2 linked regions of the Homo sapiens genome follow. The protein of the gene in region 1 purifies or fractionates together with the protein of each later gene. This does not show direct contact. Each region holds a gene or a part of one and is shown in the gene's direction. Other genes may lie near its edges.

What was found. The genes of interacting proteins can lie anywhere in the genome.
Region 2: the proteins of SPNS3 (region 1) and DMBT1 purify together in Homo sapiens (affinity purification with mass spectrometry; one large-scale study listed by BioGRID and IntAct). This does not show direct contact.

The regions. Positions count from the first base shown.
Region 1 is NC_000017.11:4,440,440-4,443,939, forward strand, and holds part of SPNS3 (protein spinster homolog 3), read left to right. Parts: intron 1-3,500. UniProt on the Homo sapiens protein: Sphingolipid transporter.
Region 2 is NC_000010.11:122,630,254-122,633,753, forward strand, and holds part of DMBT1 (scavenger receptor cysteine-rich domain-containing protein DMBT1 isoform e precursor), read left to right. Parts: intron 1-34; coding exon 35-237; intron 238-707; coding exon 708-1,028; intron 1,029-1,601; coding exon 1,602-1,622; intron 1,623-2,607; coding exon 2,608-2,637; intron 2,638-2,937; coding exon 2,938-3,088; intron 3,089-3,500.

The DNA.
Region 1 (3,500 bases):
TCTTAAACCGGGGTACAGGGATCCCTGGGGATACACAGTCACTTTCCAGGGGTTACATGAACACAGAGAGTTTTGAGAGACTGATTTATTTCTAGATTCTCAAGCCTGTATGTTTTTTTCCTAAAATGACCTGCCTGAGGGGGAGCCTGTGGTCGGCCTGTGGTTCTCCTTCCTCTCCTTCCATTGTACAATTCCCTGTCTACCATGGTAAACAGAAAGGGACTCCTCTCCGCATCCTGGATGTGCTGCTCCTGGGTGTAAAAACCTCTGGGGTATCAAACAGAGGCCCCTGCGTGGATGCTCGGCTTTTCCCAGGGGGACCTTGGGAGCAAAGCAGAGAGCATCAAGAGAAACGTGCTGGGGAGATTTGCCCCAGGCTACAAGCGCAGGCAAGGAGCCAAGCCTTATCTAGCTGTTCCCGTGTGCAGTGTCTACTATTTATCTACAAATTAGAATTCAAAGTGAGATAGCGGTCTCAGGGATGCATGTCAACACATTTCTTTCAATGAAAGAAAATGAAGCCAACATTTTTCTTATAATCAGTTTGACGTCTAATTGCTTTGGCAAAAGAGGACAGGCATTATTACTTAGATTCTACTGTAGACATTTCCCATAAACTGAATAAACTCAACCCTGTAGCTCCAAGAGTTTGGATGAAAATACAGTTTAAAAAAATACACAACAACGCTGGAAATCCCATCCTTGGCAACGATTCAAACTTGGGATAAGAACATTTTAATGTTAGCTGAAAATGTGTGGAGGAGTACATAGTTCTAGAAACTTCTTTAAGAGTGACATGAGAGCCAGGTGCAGTGGCTCACGCCTGTAATCCCAGCTCTTAGGGAGGCAGAGGCGGGAGAATAGCTTGAGCCCAGGAGTTCGAGACCTGCTTGGGCAATATAGTGAGACCCTATTCTCCACAGAAAGGAAAAAAAAAAGACAAAAGAGTTACGTGAGCAACAGTTAGAAGATCATGGCTTTAGAACATGCATGGTTTCCAATTGCCCCTCAATCTTGTGGCCAAGAGACAGCAGCTGATGCTGATCTTCCAGCCATATCTGTGGCCAAAGTGAGACCATCTTGGTTCAACACCCACAACCTTCTCGATTAAATAGATAATGGTGGTTTAGTCAACATTTCCCTTCACTGGTTCTTTTTTTTTCCTTTTTTTCTTGAGACGGAGTTTTGCTCTTATTGCTCAGGCTGGAGTGCAATGGCATGATCTCGGCTCACTGCAACCTCTGACTCCTGGGTTCAAGTGATTCTCCTGCCTCAGCCTCCCAAGTAGCTGGAATTACAGGCACCTGCCATCATGCCAGGCTGATTTTTGTACTTTTAATAGAGATGGTGGGGGTGTGTTGGGGGGGGTCTCACCATGTTGGCCAGGCTGGTCTCGAACTCCTGACCTCAAGTGGTCCACCAGCCTTGACCTCCCAAAGTGTTGAGATTACAGACGTGAGCCACCACACTGGCCCTTACCATAGTATGGTTCTTACCGTAGTGGTCAAGATTATTACTACAAGTCCTGGGCCACGGAGGGAGAAGTGTGTGTGTGTGTGTGTGTGTGTGTGTGTGTGTTTGGCAGTAGGTGAAGAGAAAGGTCATCTTTGCAGAAGCAGCTCAAAAATTTCATGAAAGGACAGTGGGCTTAGAGGCCTGATGACCAGGCTGGTCTCTGGTGGCCTCAGGTGAGTCTCTTTACCTTTTCCGGTTACCGTGCTATGGCCCTAGACCCAGCCTGTTGTCTGTCCACAGGGCTGCTGAGAAGAGGAAACTGATGACTGAGAGAGAGGGTGTTGAAGAGATAGAGGGGTTGGGCTGGGCACGGTGGCTCACGCCTGTAATCCCAGCACTTTGGGAGGCTGGGTGGATCACCTGAGGTCGGGAGTTTGAGACCAGCCTGGCCAACATGGTGAAACCTCGTCTCTACTAAAAATACAAAAATTAGCCAGGTGTGGTGGCAGGTGCCTGGAATCCCAGCTACTTGGGAGGCTGAGGCAGGAGAATCACTTGAACCCAGAAGGCAGGGGTTGCAGTGAGCTGAGATCGTGCCACTGCACTCCAGACTGGGCCACAGAGCAAGACTGTCTCAAAAAAAAAACAAAAAAAGAGAAGAGGAGTGGAAAGTGAGAAGAGGCAGTGGTCAGGCTCCCTCCAGCCACCCATGGGATAGAGAAGCTGCTGGAGTGAGTTCATTAATTAATAATATTTAAAACTAACACTGACTTGGCCCTTACCACATGTCAGGCACGATTCTAAGTGCTTTAAATATCAACTTATTTAATCTTCACGACAATCCCACCAGGCAGGTTTTACTATTATGTCCATTTTACAGATGATGAAACTGAGGCTCAGAGAAGTTATGAGACTTGCTGAAGCTGGGATTTGAATCCAGGAAGTGTGCCTCCAGAGTCTGTCTTTTAACTCTGGGAGCATTCATTTCACCCACTGTGTCACAGAAATGATTTGAATTAGGAGACCTTGGGAATGAGGAGTGTCTGTTTTCCCCTTGGGAAGGGCATCTGCAGATTCACAGAGCGTCTGCAGGTTTAAGGCACTTAAAACAGCCTGCAAGTGATCCCTGCATGTGAGGAATATGAGGATATATACATATTTGTTGTTGTTTGTTTGCTTTTTGTTTTTTTTTTTGAGAGAGACTCTCGCTCTGTCACACAGGCTGGAGTGCAGTGGTGCGATCTCAGCTCACTGCAACCTCCACCTCCCAGGTTCAAGCAATTCTTCTCCCTCAGCCTCCCCAGTAGCTGGGATTACAGGCGCCCGCCACCATGCTCAGCTAACTTCTGTATTTTTAGTAGAGATGGGATTTTACCATGTTGGCCCGGCTGGTCTCGAACTCCTGACCTCGGGTGATCCACCGGCCTTGGCTTCCCAAAGTGCTGGGATTACAGGCGTGAGCCACCGCGTCCAGCTGGGAAATAGTTTTATAACTTTTGGATAAAGAAGATATGCATAAACAAGATATGAAATAACACTTGCCCCTCCAGAAGGTTAATAAATTTGACTACAAAGCTAAACACTTCCGTATGATGGTGATTGAAATTATGCAATCAGTAATAATAATAGATAACATTTATTGGACATTTACATGAAGCTATGCAGATAACTTTTATGTGCTTTATTTTACTTAATTCTCTCAGTAACCAAACAAGGGAATAGCACTGTTGATGAAAGGGGAACACGAAGAGTTAAGGAATCTACCAAAGGTCACATAGCTAGAAAGTGGTGAGCCAGGATTTAAACCCAGCCAACTTAGTCCCAGAAGTTGCGTTTCTAATTCTTAAAACAAATATAAAAGACTATGGGAACTTATTTCCAAAACATATTAACAAACAACAGCCCAATAGAAAAATGGACAGTGGGCCGGGCACAGTGGCCCACGCCTGTAACCCCAGCACTTTAGGAGGCCGAGGTGGGCGGATCCCTTGAGCCCAGGAGTTCGAGACCAGCCTGCACAAGATGGTGAAACCCCGTCTGTGCAA
Region 2 (3,500 bases), on another chromosome or scaffold:
TCAATGTTGACTTGAATACATTTTCTCCATACAGATTGGAGGCACACCATAACTGCAGTTTTGATTATGTTGAAATCTTTGATGGATCATTGAATAGCAGTCTCCTGCTGGGGAAAATCTGTAATGATACCAGGCAAATATTTACATCTTCTTACAACCGAATGACCATTCACTTTCGAAGTGACATCAGTTTCCAAAACACTGGCTTTTTGGCTTGGTATAACTCCTTCCCAAGCGGTAAGTGCACACTAGACCATGCCTATGAGGCTTGGTGGATTTACCCAGCTGCCTCTTTGGGGGCACCATGGTTCCCCAAGGAAATCAAAGAAGGGCCTCAGCGATGCACGGCCCATTCTCTTTCTCTTGGCACTGACTGTGTGGGCAGGCCCTTGGGAAGGCAGCAAAGGGTGCAGACTGGGGGTTCCACCTGGCCTTGGGTCTGCCACCAACTCTCCAGGGGACCTGGTGACTCTCCTTCAGAGCCACCCCTCTCCGTCTGGAGGTGAGGGGATCTGAGCTTGGCGATGTCTAGAGCCCCTTTCAGCTCTGCATGGAGCGGTCCAGTACCTCCACCCCAGCTTTTCCACATTTCTATTTGGCGACTTTAGAGGTGGGAAAAGGCCTGTGGGATGCTTGGCCTTTGAGGTTTGTTGTGGGACATTTGTTGTGGGACATGGCCATGATCTCTCAGTTAATGTGTCTTTCAGATGCCACCTTGAGGTTGGTCAATTTAAATTCATCCTATGGTCTATGTGCCGGGCGTGTAGAAATTTACCATGGTGGCACCTGGGGGACAGTTTGTGATGACTCCTGGACCATTCAGGAAGCTGAGGTGGTCTGCAGACAGCTAGGGTGTGGACGTGCAGTTTCAGCCCTTGGAAATGCATATTTTGGCTCTGGCTCTGGCCCCATCACCCTGGACGATGTAGAGTGCTCAGGGACGGAATCCACTCTCTGGCAGTGCCGGAACCGAGGCTGGTTCTCCCACAACTGTAATCATCGTGAAGATGCTGGTGTCATCTGCTCAGGTATGGCCCAATGCCATGGAAGGCCCATTTCACCTGTAACTTGCTATAAAGCAAGAGCTTAAGGCCAGTGGCTGATGGTGTCTGTGGCCCAGGCAGGAGCTGGTCATTGTGTCCTCGTGGCCTGCGCACTCCAGAAGAGCATGCAGGGGGCTGCTTTATCTTTGGCCAGTTTCTGGACCCAGGGCCATTATGCTGAACACTCATCTGACTAAAGGACCTCCAGCAATGATTTTACTTCTTTATGCTTCAGTTTCCTTGACTGTTGAGTCGGGGTGGCTATGATAGTACTTGCTACTGGTGACAATTGGGATGGTTTTAGAACAATCATGGTCAAGGAGAGAGTGATGGGTGTTATGACCTCAGCTGTAATCCTGATGACCACAAGTATGACGGGACTTAGGGAGCATCTGGGGAAGCTGGGAAGGCTTCTCAATAGCAATTGCTGGGTGGACCTGGGGACCCTCGCCGAGGGGGGTCAGGTTATGGGCCATGTAAGTGTATCTCTGTCTCATTCCGGCCCCTCCTCCAAGCCACATGTCTGTGACCTATGCTTTTTTTCTATTCCTTTTTCAGGAAACCATCTATCGACACCTGGTAAGTCCCTCCGATTTCCATTCCACTTCCCTGGTCTCCAGGTCTCTCCATTACTGCTGCCTAGACTGTGCAGGGCATGTTGCTCACTCTCCAAGGAGTTCATCTGTGGTACCATCCTCTACAGCCCCTGTCCCCTCCCCTGCCGGCCACCAGGATAGTGTGCCCCTCTCTGTGCTTCAGTGGCCTGACCCACCTAAGATTAGGATCTCCAGTCAGTCCCGAGGTGAGGCCCGCCACCTGTCAGATTTGACTGTCCTCACAGACACCAGACCCTGACCAGTGTTGGCCAAATGGGGCCCACTGCATCGCAGAGCTCCTCCCTGCCTGCCCCTGAGCTGCTCTGAGTGTTCCCAGCATGGCCCTGGCACCTCTCCAACACCCCCCACTGCCCCGCCCCCTGCTTGCTTTGTCATCCCCTCCTGGCCTCCCATAGCAGCAGCTTCAGGCCTGTGCCCTCCCATCCATTCTCCACTGTGCAGCCCCTTCAAGAGATTCCTCAGGGTCTTCTGGTGATGACCCCGCTCCTCAGCACAGCATGACTGCCAGGGCTCCCCATGATCTGCTCCCTATGCTTGGTGCCCTCTCCCCATCCTCTGCCTGCTCCATCTACACGGAGGTTCCCAAATCTATTCCACCCAGGTGCAGTTGCACCTGCTGTTCCTCTGCCTGGGACACCCCGTTTCTACCTCTTTGCCTGCCCCCTAATTACTGCCCTTTTTTCCCCACTCCATCTGGGGCAGGGGCCAGACTTCCAGGCTCCTCTCCTTCCCCAGGCTTTGGTCAATCTCATCCTTTTCCCAGTGTGCTGGGATTCGCTCTCCTCCAGACCTCCCCAAAGGCAAGTGAGCTCCCCAAGGGCAAGGCCTGTGTCCAGCTCCTCCCTGTGGACTCAGGCTTGGCACAGCATCTGCACAGCTCATGAGCAGTCGACAGCTGTGTCAGGGATGCCAGAAAACTGATCCTGATCTTTTCTTTTTGTCAACAGCTCCTTTTCTCAACATCACCCGTCCAAACAGTAAGTTCTGAGCTCCCTGACAAGTCTGTGGCAGAGTGGCCTGGAAATTCCCCTTCCCATTTCCTCAGTGACAATGGGGCTGGGGAGGAGATGGCTTCCCCCAAAGTGGTCTCCCTGCAAGAGTGCCCTGCCAGCCCTCAGTGGACGGTCCAGATCTAGGCCACCTCTTGCTCTTACTTGGTTTCTGTCTTGGGAATTATTTTATAAAATTTTAAAGTAATTTAAATTTAAAGTAGTCCGCAGGTAGACTGTGCAGTGTGCTCTGGGGGTCACCGACATTCCCACTTTTTGTCCTGACAGCAGATTATTCCTGCGGAGGCTTCCTATCCCAACCATCAGGGGACTTTTCCAGCCCATTCTATCCCGGGAACTATCCAAACAATGCCAAGTGTGTGTGGGACATTGAGGTGCAAAACAACTACCGTGTGACTGTGATCTTCAGAGATGTCCAGTAAGTGTGCGCCCAGAAGAATGCCTTGGGGCCCCACAGACCTTTCAAGAGGGAATAAATGGTGCTTAAGTGTGCGCCCAGAAGAATGCCTTGGGGCCCCACAGACCTTTCAAGAGGGAATAAATGGTGCTTAGAAAGCCAGGAGAGAAGTTTGCTGAGAGACATTTTTGACCTAGCCCAGAGGCATCCCGTGGAGAGTTGGGGAGGGGGCACGAGAGCCTTGGAGTGGACAAAAGCTCTGGTTTCAAGTCCTAGGTCTTTCACCAATTTGCTGTGTGACCACAGGAAGTCACTCAACTTTCCTGAGCCTCAGTCAAAAGAGGGGAATAAAATACCTGCTTTCCTCACCTCACTGTTTACTGGGAAGGTCACGAGAAACAGAGAGGAGAGAGAGGGAGAGAGATGTGAAAAT